Regions from separate parts of the Homo sapiens genome. Here region 2 is linked to region 1. The links come from fine-mapping of genetic effects on gene expression. A gene starts in region 1. The other region holds a variant in brackets. All regions are shown on one strand. Distances are between the middles of the regions. Region 1 holds the start of C9orf72 (C9orf72-SMCR8 complex subunit). Region 2 has its middle 24 kb from the start of C9orf72.

Region 1 (5,381 bases):
TGCAATATGAGAAGGACATTAGATTTGGGAGGGGCCAGAGTTGGAATAACATGGTTTGGATCTCTGTCCCCACCCAAATCTCATGTTCAACTGTAATCCCCAGTGTTGGAGGTTGGGCCTGGTGGGAGGTGAGTGGATTATGGGGTGGCTTCTAATGGTTTTGTACAGTCCCCTCTTGGTACTATATAGTGAGTTCTGACAAGATCTAGTTGTTTAAACGTATGTAGCACCTCCCATTTCTCTCTTCCCCCAGTTCCTGCCATGTGAAGTCTGGGGTCTCCCTATGCCTTCCATCATGATTTTAAGTTCCCTATGGCCTGCCCAGAAGCTGATCCAGCCATGCTTCTTGTACAGCCTGCAGAACTGTGAGCCATTAAACTTTTCTTTATAAATTACCCAGTTTCAGTTATTTCTTTATAGCAGTGTAAGAATGGACTAACACAATTATTAACGCTAGTCCTCATGTTGTACATTAAATCTCTAGATGTATTAGACGTAACTGCAACTTTGTACCCTACCCTACAATTTTCTTTCCCCCCAAGCCCCCCAACCAAGGGTCTACTCTGTTTCTATAAATTCAGTTGTTTTTTAATTCCACGTATAAGTGAAGTACAACTCAGTGTAGAAACTTGGTAAATGCTAGCTACTTGTTATAAGCTGTCAGTCAAAATAAAAATACAGAGATGAATCTCTAAATTAAGTGATTTATTTGGGAAGAAAGAATTGCAATTAGGGCATACATGTAGATCAGATGGTCTTCGGTATATCCACACAACAAAGAAAAGGGGGAGGTTTTGTTAAAAAAGAGAAATGTTACATAGTGCTCTTTGAGAAAATTCATTGGCACTATTAAGGATCTGAGGAGCTGGTGAGTTTCAACTGGTGAGTGATGGTGGTAGATAAAATTAGAGCTGCAGCAGGTCATTTTAGCAACTATTAGATAAAACTGGTCTCAGGTCACAACGGGCAGTTGCAGCAGCTGGACTTGGAGAGAATTACACTGTGGGAGCAGTGTCATTTGTCCTAAGTGCTTTTCTACCCCCTACCCCCACTATTTTAGTTGGGTATAAAAAGAATGACCCAATTTGTATGATCAACTTTCACAAAGCATAGAACAGTAGGAAAAGGGTCTGTTTCTGCAGAAGGTGTAGACGTTGAGAGCCATTTTGTGTATTTATTCCTCCCTTTCTTCCTCGGTGAATGATTAAAACGTTCTGTGTGATTTTTAGTGATGAAAAAGATTAAATGCTACTCACTGTAGTAAGTGCCATCTCACACTTGCAGATCAAAAGGCACACAGTTTAAAAAACCTTTGTTTTTTTACACATCTGAGTGGTGTAAATGCTACTCATCTGTAGTAAGTGGAATCTATACACCTGCAGACCAAAAGACGCAAGGTTTCAAAAATCTTTGTGTTTTTTACACATCAAACAGAATGGTACGTTTTTCAAAAGTTAAAAAAAAACAACTCATCCACATATTGCAACTAGCAAAAATGACATTCCCCAGTGTGAAAATCATGCTTGAGAGAATTCTTACATGTAAAGGCAAAATTGCGATGACTTTGCAGGGGACCGTGGGATTCCCGCCCGCAGTGCCGGAGCTGTCCCCTACCAGGGTTTGCAGTGGAGTTTTGAATGCACTTAACAGTGTCTTACGGTAAAAACAAAATTTCATCCACCAATTATGTGTTGAGCGCCCACTGCCTACCAAGCACAAACAAAACCATTCAAAACCACGAAATCGTCTTCACTTTCTCCAGATCCAGCAGCCTCCCCTATTAAGGTTCGCACACGCTATTGCGCCAACGCTCCTCCAGAGCGGGTCTTAAGATAAAAGAACAGGACAAGTTGCCCCGCCCCATTTCGCTAGCCTCGTGAGAAAACGTCATCGCACATAGAAAACAGACAGACGTAACCTACGGTGTCCCGCTAGGAAAGAGAGGTGCGTCAAACAGCGACAAGTTCCGCCCACGTAAAAGATGACGCTTGGTGTGTCAGCCGTCCCTGCTGCCCGGTTGCTTCTCTTTTGGGGGCGGGGTCTAGCAAGAGCAGGTGTGGGTTTAGGAGGTGTGTGTTTTTGTTTTTCCCACCCTCTCTCCCCACTACTTGCTCTCACAGTACTCGCTGAGGGTGAACAAGAAAAGACCTGATAAAGATTAACCAGAAGAAAACAAGGAGGGAAACAACCGCAGCCTGTAGCAAGCTCTGGAACTCAGGAGTCGCGCGCTAGGGGCCGGGGCCGGGGCCGGGGCGTGGTCGGGGCGGGCCCGGGGGCGGGCCCGGGGCGGGGCTGCGGTTGCGGTGCCTGCGCCCGCGGCGGCGGAGGCGCAGGCGGTGGCGAGTGGGTGAGTGAGGAGGCGGCATCCTGGCGGGTGGCTGTTTGGGGTTCGGCTGCCGGGAAGAGGCGCGGGTAGAAGCGGGGGCTCTCCTCAGAGCTCGACGCATTTTTACTTTCCCTCTCATTTCTCTGACCGAAGCTGGGTGTCGGGCTTTCGCCTCTAGCGACTGGTGGAATTGCCTGCATCCGGGCCCCGGGCTTCCCGGCGGCGGCGGCGGCGGCGGCGGCGCAGGGACAAGGGATGGGGATCTGGCCTCTTCCTTGCTTTCCCGCCCTCAGTACCCGAGCTGTCTCCTTCCCGGGGACCCGCTGGGAGCGCTGCCGCTGCGGGCTCGAGAAAAGGGAGCCTCGGGTACTGAGAGGCCTCGCCTGGGGGAAGGCCGGAGGGTGGGCGGCGCGCGGCTTCTGCGGACCAAGTCGGGGTTCGCTAGGAACCCGAGACGGTCCCTGCCGGCGAGGAGATCATGCGGGATGAGATGGGGGTGTGGAGACGCCTGCACAATTTCAGCCCAAGCTTCTAGAGAGTGGTGATGACTTGCATATGAGGGCAGCAATGCAAGTCGGTGTGCTCCCCATTCTGTGGGACATGACCTGGTTGCTTCACAGCTCCGAGATGACACAGACTTGCTTAAAGGAAGTGACTATTGTGACTTGGGCATCACTTGACTGATGGTAATCAGTTGTCTAAAGAAGTGCACAGATTACATGTCCGTGTGCTCATTGGGTCTATCTGGCCGCGTTGAACACCACCAGGCTTTGTATTCAGAAACAGGAGGGAGGTCCTGCACTTTCCCAGGAGGGGTGGCCCTTTCAGATGCAATCGAGATTGTTAGGCTCTGGGAGAGTAGTTGCCTGGTTGTGGCAGTTGGTAAATTTCTATTCAAACAGTTGCCATGCACCAGTTGTTCACAACAAGGGTACGTAATCTGTCTGGCATTACTTCTACTTTTGTACAAAGGATCAAAAAAAAAAAAGATACTGTTAAGATATGATTTTTCTCAGACTTTGGGAAACTTTTAACATAATCTGTGAATATCACAGAAACAAGACTATCATATAGGGGATATTAATAACCTGGAGTCAGAATACTTGAAATACGGTGTCATTTGACACGGGCATTGTTGTCACCACCTCTGCCAAGGCCTGCCACTTTAGGAAAACCCTGAATCAGTTGGAAACTGCTACATGCTGATAGTACATCTGAAACAAGAACGAGAGTAATTACCACATTCCAGATTGTTCACTAAGCCAGCATTTACCTGCTCCAGGAAAAAATTACAAGCACCTTATGAAGTTGATAAAATATTTTGTTTGGCTATGTTGGCACTCCACAATTTGCTTTCAGAGAAACAAAGTAAACCAAGGAGGACTTCTGTTTTTCAAGTCTGCCCTCGGGTTCTATTCTACGTTAATTAGATAGTTCCCAGGAGGACTAGGTTAGCCTACCTATTGTCTGAGAAACTTGGAACTGTGAGAAATGGCCAGATAGTGATATGAACTTCACCTTCCAGTCTTCCCTGATGTTGAAGATTGAGAAAGTGTTGTGAACTTTCTGGTACTGTAAACAGTTCACTGTCCTTGAAGTGGTCCTGGGCAGCTCCTGTTGTGGAAAGTGGACGGTTTAGGATCCTGCTTCTCTTTGGGCTGGGAGAAAATAAACAGCATGGTTACAAGTATTGAGAGCCAGGTTGGAGAAGGTGGCTTACACCTGTAATGCCAGAGCTTTGGGAGGCGGAGGCAAGAGGATCACTTGAAGCCAGGAGTTCAAGCTCAACCTGGGCAACGTAGACCCTGTCTCTACAAAAAATTAAAAACTTAGCCGGGCGTGGTGATGTGCACCTGTAGTCCTAGCTACTTGGGAGGCTGAGGCAGGAGGGTCATTTGAGCCCAAGAGTTTGAAGTTACCGAGAGCTATGATCCTGCCAGTGCATTCCAGCCTGGATGACAAAACGAGACCCTGTCTCTAAAAAACAAGAAGTGAGGGCTTTATGATTGTAGAATTTTCACTACAATAGCAGTGGACCAACCACCTTTCTAAATACCAATCAGGGAAGAGATGGTTGATTTTTTAACAGACGTTTAAAGAAAAAGCAAAACCTCAAACTTAGCACTCTACTAACAGTTTTAGCAGATGTTAATTAATGTAATCATGTCTGCATGTATGGGATTATTTCCAGAAAGTGTATTGGGAAACCTCTCATGAACCCTGTGAGCAAGCCACCGTCTCACTCAATTTGAATCTTGGCTTCCCTCAAAAGACTGGCTAATGTTTGGTAACTCTCTGGAGTAGACAGCACTACATGTACGTAAGATAGGTACATAAACAACTATTGGTTTTGAGCTGATTTTTTTCAGCTGCATTTGCATGTATGGATTTTTCTCACCAAAGACGATGACTTCAAGTATTAGTAAAATAATTGTACAGCTCTCCTGATTATACTTCTCTGTGACATTTCATTTCCCAGGCTATTTCTTTTGGTAGGATTTAAAACTAAGCAATTCAGTATGATCTTTGTCCTTCATTTTCTTTCTTATTCTTTTTGTTTGTTTGTTTGTTTGTTTTTTTCTTGAGGCAGAGTCTCTCTCTGTCGCCCAGGCTGGAGTGCAGTGGCGCCATCTCAGCTCATTGCAACCTCTGCCACCTCCGGGTTCAAGAGATTCTCCTGCCTCAGCCTCCCGAGTAGCTGGGATTACAGGTGTCCACCACCACACCCGGCTAATTTTTTGTATTTTTAGTAGAGGTGGGGTTTCACCATGTTGGCCAGGCTGGTCTTGAGCTCCTGACCTCAGGTGATCCACCTGCCTCGGCCTACCAAAGAGCTGGGATAACAGGTGTGACCCACCATGCCCGGCCCATTTTTTTTTTCTTATTCTGTTAGGAGTGAGAGTGTAACTAGCAGTATAATAGTTCAATTTTCACAACGTGGTAAAAGTTTCCCTATAATTCAATCAGATTTTGCTCCAGGGTTCAGTTCTGTTTTAGGAAATACTTTTATTTTCAGTTTAATGATGAAATATTAGAGTTGTAATATTGCCTTTAT
Region 2 (5,381 bases), 25 kb before region 1:
TAGTTTTTTATGGCCCATGGTTTTTCAACTACGTCACTATTGGTAGCAGTTTCCACTGCAGGATCTATTTGCAAAGCCTAGGAAATTAGCATTAAGCAAGCTGCTAGGAAGACTTCAACAGTAACTAGGCCACAGGCCTCACACATTTTTCCTCCACCCCAGCCTCCTCTGGAGAGTACTTGCTAAACCTCTGTGACACATAATGAAGCAAAGAAAGTGATAGAACAACAGAATTACACGGGCAGATCCTTGTTTCTTCTTCTCTCTCTAAAGAATTCCTTGGACTGAAAAGCAGTTTATTTTGGAGGAGTGAGAAAGTGGTGACAGAATTAGAAGGGCCTGGGAGGGCTTCATTTTAGGAGACAGTTTTAGGCTGAAAAGAGATTTCATGAGTGTGATTTACCTGAGGTGACTTTTGGGGGCTCTTATAAAAAGGAAGTTCATGCTGAATGGGAGGTGGCTTCTGAGATGCAGATTCTGGTGAGCTAAGAGGGCTCGGTAAAGAGGAGGCAGGAGTTAAGTAGCGTGAACTATGCAGTAGCAGCCTTCTTCCCCCCTTGCTTGGGGCAGGTCATCACAACCCTTCTCAATAAAGGGGTCCAGGAACCACTAGGAATAAATGGGCATTTGCACTTCAGGTGAAACCCATTTGTCATAACTGCTTGGACTTTAAGCTTACAAATAAAAAGAACCACATATTTCCCTTTGCAGCTTGATTTAGTTAATGTCATTTTGAGAAAGAAAGAAGACATTGTTATCCCGTCCCTTTTTTTTTTTTTTTTTTTTTTTTATGAAGAGACTGGGACTCAGAGAAGTCAAGTGATTTTCCCAGAACCAGAAAACACAGAAGTAGCAGAGCTGAGATGACTACTCCGGTCTTCTGATTCCAAATTCCAAATTCATTCTTCTAAGCGATTTCCCAAAACGGGAAATGGGTTTATCTTCTATTTATGGGAAGTGATAGTGGTATTCTATTTAGAGAACTTATATAAAATCTTACTTTAAAATAAATAATATTTCAAAAAGTAAGCTTAATTTAAAGAAAATAATCAAGAAAGTCTGGTATATTTTTACAAATATACCAAATGACCTTGCTCTAAAATACATCTACTTTCCAGCAAGCCAAAGTGAAACAATTTGAAATAAGTGGCATTTACTGACCACTCCCTAAAGTTCACACAAAAGAGGTAGTACTCTAACTTAAATATACAAGGTGAAGAAATAGCTTACTCAGCCTGTTGGGCTTCCTCTTCTACACTCTTGGGAAATGCCCTCCGTGTTAACCAAGAATTCTCAGGCCTTGGAGGGAGTTTTCCATTCTCAGTAAACTGAGATTGCAGTTGCGGAAATTAAGAGGTATCTGTCCAGCACTTCATTCCCTTAAGGTCAGGATCTGTGCTTTTAATAATGACAATTAGCTAACATATACAATTAAGCCATGCAAATGAAGTAAGAGAAAGCTAGAGGAGAAATTCAGGAGCCAGTTGCCTTTTCCAGACATCTTGTACAAATAGTGTTCAAAGGACTAATTCAAAAGATGGGATTCTTCGCTTGAACCCAGGAGGTGGAGTTTGCAGTGAGCGGAGATCGCTCCACTGCACTCCAGCCTGGGTGACAAAGTGAGACCCCATCCAAAAAAAAAAAAAAAAAAAAAAAAAAAAGATGGGATTCTTTTTTAAAAAATAAATTTTACTGCGTATTTTTAAGGTATACAACGTGATGTTATAAGATGGATATAGATAGTGAAAAGGTAACTGTAGTGAAGCAAATTAACATATTCATCATCTCACATAGTTATCTTTTATTTGTTTTGTTTTGATGGGATTTTTAAGATAGTAGAAAGGAATGGTAGACAATAAACATTTGAGGGAAAGTGGGGCTTTGTAGAACTCCTAAAATGACAGCACGCACAAATGTCCCCATTATGTCTAAAGGGTAACTCGTTCCTACTTCTAGGGACAGCTGAGGGACATCAATGTAAATTTCTAAATGACTTCCTGAACTTTTTATTTTTATTTTTTGTATTTTTAGAGGAAATTATAATAACATCAAGCCACCTCTGGACCATATCGCTGCTGATATCATCAGCAAATGGCACTATTCCTAAATCCTAAGATGCACTTTTCCCTTCACATTTCAACATTTGTGAAACTCGATTGTACCTACACCTGATTTTATATACAATGCAGCCTTTCCTTTTCTTTTGTCATTGCATCTTACGCCTGATTTCTCCTTGGAATTGAGTAAATATAATGCTTACATGTGTTAATAAGAATTGAGGTCACTCATAATTTTTGAAATATGCCACCAAATATAAGCCTTTCTACATATTGTTGACTTTGAAGTCATTTCTTTTTTTAACTACTAAACAATAACACTTTTTGTTGAGAAAAATTGCATATGAACAAGAGACCAAGCAGGTAGAGAGAAAAAAACTTTTAATAATCAAGAGAATGTTACTGTGTCCCAAAGGCTAAAGTCACCTTACTATCAAGAGAGAAGGACAGGAACAGAGAGAACCAGGTAAATTACGAATTGAAAATTCCATGGTTCATTTATCTTTATTTTTAATAATTCCATTTGTGTGATTGTGTTGACCACAAGGTCATAATGTTACTCTTCATACTGACTTCTCATGTAAATTATAAATAAGTTTTTATGCTAATGATTTATGGAGTAAGCTATTCATCTTTCCGACAGAGAGTTACCTACAAAGAAATAATTATTCTACCTCTGAGATGAAATATCATGAAAGGAGTGGTTTCCAGATATTTTGACTTTTAAAAGCTTAAAGAATATATGTAGTATAAAATTCTAAAGCAGGCAAAATTAATCCTTTTAGCAATCAAGATAGCGGCTACTTTTGGTGAGAAGGACAAGGTAGTGATAGAGAAGGGGCTCAGGGGTCTTTCCTGAAGACAGTGAGGTGGGCAATGGTATTTTCCTTGACCTGGATGGTGATTAAACAGATGTGTTTACTTTGTGATAATTGACTAGGCTGTGCACCTATGAACTGCATACTTTTCCATATATGTACTGTATTCTTATACTTAAAAAGAAGTTTAAAAATAAATGCAACAGATATAGGACTTCCTATATTACTCGTTGACCAAAAAAATGGATTCATTTTTCTTTCAGGTAAAACGTACTAGTGGTTTTAATATTATATTGACCAGGGAGTAAATGTTTACCTTAGGAACCTTAATCTTGATGTTCTCCAAAGTCATTATCTGTTCTTTCTGATTATCAGAATAGAGTATATCTCTATATAAATGAAAATTTCTGGTCATTCTCAAAAAATAACACTAAGCATGAAAATCAGAAATATTGATCTTGTTTTGTAATGATGTTTCTATTGATGTGAAGTAGTTTCT[A/G]GTAGAGTTGCTGTCCTAACACACAAATGAAATTGCACTGTTTGGAAGACACAACTGTGAATGACTTGCTTCAGTAAGGAATTTCCAACATGATGGTTTAGGGATAGAGGTGCTCGATTCCTCTGTCTCCGGTTACCCAGGTTATTGAGGACAGGGAGGTCAATAAGTAATGCCCTCCTCCCACCCATAGCACAAAACAGAGCGGGGTTCAGAGAATAGGTAAGGCTTTGGCCAGGGTGTTGAGGAGACTTACATCCCTGGGAACCAGTCAGAATGGGGGCGCTGAAAACAATGTTTTAAATTCTAGCACCCAGCAACATATGTGTGAAGATTAAATGTACTCGTGCTAAATTCACTTGCTCCATTACTGAATTTGGGTGGTGTCTGTTAAAGATGGGAACAAAGGCATTCAGGTCCTGGTATCTTCTACCACTCCCAGCATGAACAGACTCATGTCAGTGGGTAAGGGATGGTATTTCCCGAGAAGGCTTTGAACTCTTGTAGTGGGTCAAATAATGGCCCCCCACTTAAAAATGTTCATGTCCAAATCCCTGGAAGCTGTGAAAAGGGGTTTTTGCACATGTAATTAAGTCAAAGATATTGAAATTAGATCATCCTGGATTACATAGGTGGGCCCTACATTTAATGACAAGTATCCTCATAACAGAAGAGGAGAAGGTGATGTGAGATTTGGAGCAGCAGAGATTGGAGTGATGTGGCCACCAATCAAGGAAACCAAGGACTTCCAGCAGCCACCAGAAGCTGGAAGAGGCAAGGAAGGACTCTTCCCTAAAGCCTTTAAAGGAGCACAGCCCTACTAACACCTTGCTTTTGGGCTCTGGCCCGCAAAACTGTGAAAGGATACATTGCTGTTATTTGAAGCCACAGTTCGTAGTAAATTTATTACAGCAGCCCTAGAAACTGATACAACTCCTAAATACACCCTTAGCAACACTGCTCAACAAGAAGTAGGCAATTTCCTCCTGACTGAAAAATACTGATACTGTTATGGGATCCTTGGGGGTGTTGCTTTTCTGTCCAGAAACCTCTGTGGCGGTGGCACCTTTGCATGAGTTTTGCTCGGGTCCACTGGGCCCACTCATCCTGGCAGGCTGCGCTCAGCTGACACTACTGGCGTGGATCCCATGCCTCCAAAGAGACTGGAGCGAAGCGGTGAGGGATGTGTGAGGAAGTGAGCGTGGGGTCTGGCACACAGTCAGGCTCAATGGCTGCTACAGCGGGATGGGCAGCTTCAGGTGCTGGCACGGGTGCTGGCTCACTGCAAGGCTGTGGCTGCACCAAGCAGCGCAGCAACGGAACGCATTGGTGCCTGGAAACTTGGAGACTCCAGGAACCTCAGGGCTCCAAAAGGCAAATCACAGCCCTAGCTTCGGGAGCTCCCAGGTCTGGGCTGCCAAAGGGCTGCAGCTCTTCTCTCCTCTCTCTCTCTTCGCTCCTCTCCCTTTCTCTCTTCACTCCTCCCTCTTTCTCTCTTCACTCCTCCTGTCGCCTATGAACAGCGAATTCAACCTTCCAGTTTTCAGACTAGGAATGCTGGAGTTGTCCTTGATTACTCTGAATTGTTCACTCCGCATATGGGCACTGAGGATACGTTGATGAACTACACAGACAAAAAGGATAGAAATTCCTGTCAAGACTACATTCAATAGGGATGAAGCAGGCAATAATGAATAAACATACTAAGTTGAATATGACTATTTAAATATATATAACACATATGACTTGTATAATGTTAAATATTTTAAGTTTTTTAAATTCTTCCCTTCATAGATTTTACATTATAGTAGAAGAGGCATTTTTGTTGTTGTTCTTTTTGTTTTGGATTCAGAGGGTAAATGTGCGGGGTTGTTACATGGGTATATTGCATAATGCTGATGATGGTCCCATCACCCAGGTGGTAAACATAGTACGTAATAGGTGAATTTTTAGCCCGTGCTTCCCTCTCCCATCTAGTCGTCCTGAGTGTTTATCGTTGCTACGTTTATG

The links.
Region 2: its variant is fine-mapped to the expression of C9orf72 in whole blood (TOPMed, PIP above 0.99).

Annotation. Positions count from the first base shown.
Region 1 is chr9:27,570,397-27,575,777 of GRCh38, reverse strand. C9orf72 (C9orf72-SMCR8 complex subunit) reads left to right here and starts at 2,297. Exons shown (of 11, transcript NM_018325.5): 1 at 2,297-2,347. RefSeq lists enhancers at 1,688-2,215, 2,814-2,903 and a silencer at 2,224-2,303.
Region 2 is chr9:27,595,161-27,600,541 of GRCh38, reverse strand. No RefSeq gene overlaps it. Among named protein-coding and RNA genes, the nearest start is that of C9orf72, 24 kb to the right of the region's middle. The variant A/G (reference allele first, on the strand shown) is at 3,375.